Regions from separate parts of the Homo sapiens genome. Here region 1 is linked to region 2. Evidence: fine-mapped expression QTL. A gene starts in region 2. The other region holds a variant in brackets. All regions are shown on one strand. Distances are from middle to middle.

What was found. PIP is the estimated chance that this variant, and not a neighbour inherited with it, causes the effect. A credible set is the group of variants that fine-mapping cannot tell apart.
Region 1: its variant is the best candidate, but not a certain one, in a credible set for the expression of MIPOL1 in thyroid (GTEx, PIP 0.67).

Annotation. Positions count from the first base shown.
Region 1 is chr14:37,359,513-37,363,711 of GRCh38, forward strand. The region is part of intron 9 of MIPOL1 (mirror-image polydactyly 1); the gene reads left to right. Among named protein-coding and RNA genes, the nearest start is that of MIPOL1, 160 kb to the left of the region's middle. The variant C/T (reference allele first, on the strand shown) is at 2,178.
Region 2 is chr14:37,195,352-37,199,550 of GRCh38, forward strand. It overlaps MIPOL1 (mirror-image polydactyly 1), which reads left to right and starts at 2,586. Exons shown (of 13, transcript NM_001388067.1): 1 at 2,586-2,753.

The sequences.
Region 1 (4,199 bases), 160 kb after region 2:
AGCAGTGGTTTGTAGTTCTTCTTGAAGAGGTCCTTCACATCCCTTGTAAGTTGTATTCCTAGGTATTTTATTCTCTTTGTAGCAATTGTGAATGGGAGTTCACTCATTATTTGGCTCTCTGTTATTGGTGTATAGGAATACTTTTGATTTTTGCACATTGATTTTGTATCCTGAGAATTTGCCTAATTTGCTTATCAACTTAAGGAGATTTTGGACTGAGACGATGGGGTTTTCTAAATATACAATCACGTAATCTGCAAACTTTGACTTCCACTTTTCATAATTGAATATCTTTTATTTCTTTCTCTTGCCCGATTGCCCTGGCCAGAACTTCCAACACTATGTTAAATAGGAGTGGTGAGAGAGGGCATCCTTGTCTTGTGCCGGTTTTCAAAGGGAATGCTTCCAGTTTTTTCCCATTCAGTATAATATTGGCTGTGGGTTTGTCATAAATAGCTCTTATTATTTTGAGATACGTTCCATCAATGTCTAGTTCATTGTGAGTTTTTAGCATGAAGGGCTGTTGAATTTTGTCGAAGGCCTTTTCTGCATCTAATGAGACAATCATGTGGTTTTTGTCATTGGTTCTGTTTATGTGATGTATTATGTTTATTGATTTGCATATGTTGAACCAGCCTTGCATCCCGGGGATGAAGCCGACTTGATCTTGGCGGATAAGCTTTTTGATGTGCTGCTGGATTCGGTTTGCCAGTATTTTATTGAGGATATTCGCATCCATATTGATCAGGGATGTTGGTCTAAAATTCCCTTTTTTTGTTGTGTCTCTGCCACGCTTTGGTATCAGGGTGATGTTGCCTCATAAAATGAATTAGGGAGGATTCCCTCTTTCTCTATTGATTGGAATAGTTTCAGAAGGAATGGTACTATCTCCTCTTCGTACCTCTGGTAGAATTCGGATGTGATCCATCTAGTCCTGGACTTTTTTGTTCAGTAGGCTATTAGTTATTGCCTCAATTTCAGAGCCTGTTATTGGTCTATTCAGAGATTCAAGTTCTTCCTGGTTTAGTCTTGGGAGGGTGTACGTGTCCAGGAATTCATCCATTTCTTCTAGATTTTCTAGTTTATTTGCGTAGAGGTTTTTATAGTATTCTCTGATGGTAGCTTGTATTTGTGTGGGATCGGTGGTGATATCCCCTTTGTCATTTTTTATTGCGTCTGTTTGATTCTTCCCTCTTTTGTTCTTTATTGGTCTTGCTAGCAGTCTATCAATTTTGTTGATCTTTTCAAAAAACCAGCTCCTGGATTCATTGATTTTTTTGAAGGGTTTTTTGTGTCCCTATTTCTTTCAGTTCTGCTCTGATCTTAGTTATTTCTTGCCTTCTGCTAGCTTTTGAATGTGTTTGCTCTTGCTTCTCTAGTTCTTTTAATTGTGATGGTAGGATGTCAATTTTAGATCTTTTCTGCTTTCTCTTGTGGGCATTTAGTGCTATAAATTTCCGCCTACACACTGCATTAAATGTGTCCCAGAGATTCTGTTACGTTGTATCTTTGTTCTCACTGGTTTCAAAGAACATCTTTGTTTCTGCCTTCATTTCATTATTTACCTAGTAGTCATTTAGGAGCAGTTGTTCAGCGTTTATGTAGTTGTGCAGTTTTGAGTGAGTTTCTTAATCCTGAGTTCTAAGTTGATTGCACTGTGGTCTGAGAGACAGTTTGTTGTGATTTCTGTTCTTTTACATATGCTAAGGAATTCTTTACTTCCAATTATGTCGTCAATTTTAGAATAAGTGCAATGTGGTACTGAGAAGAATATGTATTCTGTTGATTTGGGGTGAAGAGTTCTGTAGATGTCTATTAGGTCCCCTTGGTGCAGAGCTGCATTCAAGTCCTGGATATCCTTCTCTCTCTTGGTTAACCTTCTCTCTCATTGATCAGTCTAATATTGACAGTGGGGTGTTAAGGTCTCCCATTACTACTGTGTGGGAGTCTACGTCTCTTTGTAGGTCTCTAAAGACTTGCTTTATGAATCTGGGTGTTCCTGTATTGGGTGCATATATATTTAGGATAGTTAGCTCTCCTTGTTGAATTGTTCCCTTTACCATTATGTGATGGCCTTTTTTGTTTCTCCCTCTCTCTCTTTTTTTTTTTTTTTTTTTTTTTTTTTGCCTCTCTCGCAGTCTGAAGGGCAGTGGCTCGATTTCGGCCCAATGCAAGCT[C/T]CGCCTTCCCCGGGTTCATGCCATTCTCCTGCCTCAGCCTCTCGAGTAGCTGGGACTACAGGCACCCACCCCCATGCCCAGCTAATTTTTTGTATTTTTCGTAGAGTCCGGGTTGCACCATGTTAGCCAGGATGGTCTCAATCTCCTGACCTTGTGATCTGCCCGCCTTGGCCTTTCAAAGTGCTGTTTGTCTCTTTTGACTTTTGTTGGTTTAAAGTCTGTTTTATCAGAGACTAGGATTGCAATGCCTGCTTTTTTTGCTTTCCATTTGCTTGGTAGATCTTCCTCCTTCCCTTTGTTTTGAGCTATGTGTGTCTCTGCATGTGAGATGGGTCTCCTGAACACAGCACACTGATGGGTCTTGACTCTATCCAATTTGCCAGTCTGTGTCCTTTAATTGGGGCATTTAGCTCATTTACATTTAAGGTTAATATTGTTATGTGTGAATATGATCCTGTCATTATGATGTTAGCTGGTTAATTTGCCCGTTAATTGATGCAGTTTCTTCATAGCATCAATGGTCTTTACAATTTGGCATGTTTTTGCAGTGGCTAGTACTGGTTGTTCCTTTCTATATTTAGTGCTTCCTTCAGGAGCTCTTGTAAGGCAGGCCTGGTGGTGGCAAAATCTCTCAGCATTTGGTTGTCTGTAAAGGATTATTTCTCCTTCACTTATGAAGCTTAGTTTGGCTGGATATGAAATTCTGGGTTGAAAATTCTTTTCTTTAAGAATGTTGAATATTGACCCCCACTCTCTTCTGGCTTGTAGGGTTTCTGCCGATAGATGCACTGTTAGTCTGATGGGCTTCCCTTTGTGGGTAACCTGACCTTTCTCTCTGGCTGCACTTAACATTTTTTCCTTTATTTCAACCTTGGTGAATCTGACAATTACGTGTCTTGGGGTTGCTCTTCTCAAGCAGTATCTTTGTGGTGCTCTCTGTATTTCCTGAATTTGAATGTTGGTCTGCCTTGCTAGGTTGGGGAAGTTCTCCTGGATAATATCCTGAAGAGTGTTTTCCAACTTGGTTTCATTCTCCCCGTCACTTTCCGGTACACCAATCAAATGTAGATTTGGTCTTTTCACATGGTCCCATATTTCTTGGAGGCTTTGTTTGTTTCTTTTTACTCTTTTTTCTCTAAACTTCTCCCCTCGCTATATTTCATTAATTTGATCTTCTATCACTGATACCCTTTCTTCCACTTGATTGAATCGGCTATTGAAGCTTGTGCATGTGTCACGACATTCTTGTGCCATGGTTTTCAGCTCTGTCAGGTCATTTAAGGTCTTCTCTACACTGTTTATTCTAGTTAGTTGTTCGTCCAACCTTTTTTCAAGATTTTTAGATTCCTTGCCATGGGTTAGAACATGCTTCTTTAGCTTGGAGAAGTTTGTTACTACTGACCTTCTGAAGCCTACTTCTGTCAGTTTGTCAAAGTCATTCTGCATCTAGCTTTGTTTCATTGCTGGTGAGGAGCTGCGATCCTTTGGAGAAGAAGAGGCACTCTGGTTTTTAGAATTTTCAGCTTTTCTGCTCTGGTTTCTCCCCATCTTTATGTATTTATCTACCTTTGGTCTCTGATGTTTTTGACCTACAGTTGGGGTTTTGGTGTAGGTGTCCTTTTTGTGGATGTTGAAACTATTCCTTTCTGTTTCTTAGTTTTTCTTCTAACAGTCAGGTCCCTCAGCTGCAGGTCCATTGGAGTTTGCTGGAGGTCCACTCCAGACCCTGTTTGCCTGCGTATCACCAGTGGAGGCTGCAGAACAGTAAATATTGCAGAACAGCAAATATTGCTGTCTGTTCCTTTTTCTGGAAGCTTCATCCCAGAGGGGCATCCACCTGTATGAGGTGTCTGTCGGCCCCAGTGGGAGGTGTCTTCCAGTTAGGCTACATGATTGTCAGGGACCTACTTGAGGAGGCAGTCTGTCCATTCTCAAAGCTCAAATGCCGTGCTGGGAGAACCACTGCTCTCTTCAGAGCTATCAGACAGGGACATTTAAGTCTGTAGAAGTTGTCCGCTGCCA
Region 2 (4,199 bases):
GAGATTACCATTTAAATCACCAGACTTTGAATACAACAGATTACATTCCATGTATGTCCAACTACAATTCTTTTCTGAGGCTTGCCCGCCTCTTCCCTCAGATTTTGGACTCACTAAAAGTCCACAACTGCATGAGCCATTTCCTTACAATAAATCACTGTCCCTCTCTCTATGTAGTCTCTGTGTATACACACATATCCTGTTTGTTCTGTTTCTCTGGAGAACCCTGATTAATACATATGGTATTCTCAGCTACTTGTGTGCCTAATTGTTATTCATTATTTTATTTGCAGAACTGATCAGTGTGTGACACACTGCAGAAGCCTAATATTTATAGACTTGAGAATATTAATGATCTGACATTAACAGACTTGATAATATTAATAATATGACATTCTTTTTCTCCCTGTAACGAAAGAGTGGTTCATTTTCTTCTTCTCATCTTCATCCATATTTCTGTAAAAGTCCAGCTTGTATGAGGTATGAGGACATAGACAATATCTTTGATAATCATTTTGAGAAAAGAAAAAAGCTCTAATTTATCTCTTTCATTTCTTATAGACAGGCAACTGTTAGAACAATAGAAAATGAAGAAATGGATATGTTGGTTATGGTGGTGGTGGAGGGGAGTAGGGGAAAACTTACCTGTTGTGGTATCAAAAGTTTAGGGAAAGAACATTAATGAGTTACTTCAGGTATGTTAGGGAAAAAGGAAAAAGAATAGGGAGAATTAGTCCTAATGTTTGAACTCACTGCATAAAACAGAGAGAGAGAGAGAGAAAATCAGCTTACTAAAAGGAAAGAAAATATGAGGTTTCTCTTTATGCCAGAGACTGTAAGCACCCAGATAATGGGCTTTAAAAAAAGGAGGAAATGAACTTTACTCAATGAAAAATATTATAATTTTTCTCTAAATTTATTCTACTAATTCATTACATGGTTTGAATGTTCTCATTGTGGTAGTCACTATCCTGTTTTATTTATTATTTCCTAGCCAGGAAAATCAACTTTTTCCTTTGTTTTACACATAATTTGATTTGGCCCTAAGCCTTTGCACAAGCTATATACTTCCTGATTGGAGTATTTGCTCTGATAAACTGTACACTCTTTGTTTTTGTCTCATAGATTTTTATGGTACTTTATGTTCATAAATATGATTCAAATCCTGACTGAAGTAAAGCAAAAAAGAAAAAAGCATTTCAAAGCTGAATCTGTAACAAACTTCTTGAGAACACTGTTCATTACAGCATACATAACGAAAATTTGGTGAATATTATAACCTCTGTTGTTCCAAGTTAATCTACGTCCAACTTTTCCATTTTGTTAGTTTTCACAGCGTCATGCTCTGTCCCCCAGGCTGGGGTGCAGTGGCGCCAGCCATCGTAGCTTATTTCAGTCTCCACCTCTGGGGCTCAAGCGATTCTCCCACCTCATCCTCCCTAGTAGCTGGGACTACGGGTATGCACCATCATGCCCAGCTAATTTTTTTGATTTTTAATAAAGTCAAGGTCTCGCCATGTTGTCCAGGCTGGTCTCGAACTCCTGGGCTCAAGCGATCCCACTGCCTCAGCCTTCCAAAGTGTTGGGACTACAGGCGTAAGCCACCGCGCCCGGCCTTTTTCAGTTTTTTAAACTCTCTTTTGTACACTTACTAAAGGATAAGTTCCTTTCATTAACTTTAACCACAAATTTAGGAACCCGTCAGCACCTCATATTATGCCTATTCTCTGGGGTGTATTAAAAAATATTATTGCTTATTACTCAGCACCCAGAAGAGTACCTGGCACATGGTATGTGGTCACTAAGTATTTGGTGTCTGAAGGAATCATGAGTAACAGGAGTTAAAGTGACATTTATAAAACCAATTCTGAACTATGGAACAAAAAACCCAAATTTAAATTACTAGCAGTTAATTATACCATTCTTAGTTCACGGAGGTAGGCCAATTGAAAACTTTGGACATTTTTAAATTCTGTAAGGTTTAACATTTTTTCTTAGAGGATTCACATATCGTAATCTCATCCAGCACTTCAGTCAAAAAAAAAAAAAAAAAAAAAAGTCACCAGCTCCAAGGTTTTAGTGTGAAACGTTCTTTGGCCAGGATCTAGATAGTACTTTTGCTCACTCAACCGGAGCCCGATCTGGTGCCATTTTCACTTGACCGCCGCTTCGAAACACGTCCCTCCCACCTCTCATCCCAAACCACACACAAAGAAGGAAAGCACAATTTCGACAGGTCTTGGGAAAACTCGACGAGGCCAAGTATGAGGCCACAAGACACCGTTTTTAGTTCCGCGTTCTCCCTCTTCTAATCCTATTAGGTTTTGTCCAGACAACGTTTTGCTCTTTCAGAAGAGAAAGAGCGTTCTGCGCTCGTCGTCTTGGATTCGACAACCATAAGCATCCCGTTAGGGCAACCACCGCAGCAGACTAAGTTCGACTACTTTCTCTCCAAACTCCTCCCGGGCCTTCTTCCCAAGCTCTCTCTTTCTCCTGGAGGCCCCGCCTCGCGGCCCGGCAGCGCGGCACGCGCATGCCCGGTGCTCGCCGCTTGCGCTCTCCCCTGCGGCGCGCCGCCGCCCCGTAGGCCCCACGCGCCGCCCCGCTCCTCCGCCGGATCGTCTGTGGGTGAGTCTCGAGCCAGGAGGCTCTGAGCCAGTGGCGATTGGCTGACGCGGTGGCTGCGCACTCGGCCTGAGAAACTCGGCAAGCGCGCAGTGTCGACTCCCCGGTCTATGCCAGGCGCATCTCAGGTAAACGGTTGGGCAGGGAGGTTTGGGCGACGGAGAATGATAGTGGTGGGCACAGATCAGCCCTGGAGTTTTCGGCCGCAGACTTTTCCTTGGAGAAGGAGAAGGGGCCCCGCGGAATCTGTACTTAGTGAATGCTGACCCCGCGTGGCCGGGAGTGATGGGGCTCTCTCGAAGGTCAGTGTCGTGGGGTCCTCAGGTGGCAGACAGCTCTTTCTGGGTATGGTTTTGGTATTGTCTCCAGTTTCCTAATACTGGACCTGAGCAGCTGAGCATTTATTCAAGGGTGTATTTTTTTTGTTTTTTTCCCCTTAAGTCGCGGTTAGTCAGAAGGTTCCAGTCCTCGCTCAACCTCTGATCGACTCTGTGCCCATGAGAGAGTCGTTTTATATTTCATTTCTCACACGTGGAAGTGTGGGCGAAGAATGAGGGGCTTCTTTAAGCGCGCTAAGCCATGCTGTAAAAAGATACTGTTAGAATTTTTTTTTTTCTTTTTTGATTCACAATGTCCCTGGACCTGGTGCAACGTTTGGGAAGCATTTTAAGCTCTATGGATGGAGGGAACAAGACAGCCGCATTATTAGACAAGGATGGTAGAAAGGAACAACTTTCCACAAACACACGCGTTTGGAAAAGCTCCTTTGAGCATTTTATGCAGGTTAAATCACAGTGGTAGTAGATAGAAATAAGCCAAAACAAAGGGCCAAACAAAACTACATTTCAAGGAGGTGTTCTTTTCTTCCCCAGATAACTTGAATATACTATCACAAATTATTGGCGTTTCAAAGTTTTTCCTTGTGATCTGGTATGGAGTTCATCTAAAATGACAATTACATAATCATTCTATGCAATCGTATGCCAATAAAATTAATTAAAACAGTTTAATTTTTAATGTGAGGAATAGGAATCAAGACATGTCATTGATGGGAGGTAATGATGGCAATCAGCAAAATGAATGGGAGATGTATACAATTTTCCTTCAAAGGAGTAGAGTTTATAGAGATATTTTTATTGCGTTAATATTTAAAGTATAAAGACATACAGAAAAGTGCATGAATCGTAAGTGTACAGCTCGGTGAATTTTCACAAAGTGTAAATACCCATGTATCCAGTATCTAGATCAGGAAAGAGCATTATTGCATCCCGGAAGCCCCACTTCATGGTTCCAAAGGTAATCATTATCTGGACTTCCAACATTATCAATGAATTTCACCTATTATTTACTTTATATAAATGGAGTAATATGGTATTTAGTCCTTAGTTTCTGATTTTTGCTCAATATTTTATTTGTGAGATTTATTCAAGTTATGTAGCAGTTTGTTATTCTCATGCTGTATGTATAGTATTTCTAGTTTTTGGCTATTACCAATAGGGCTGCTATAAAGATTTTTAGAAATATTTTGATGAAATTATGTATACTTTTTTTTTTCTTCTTTTTTTTGAGATGGA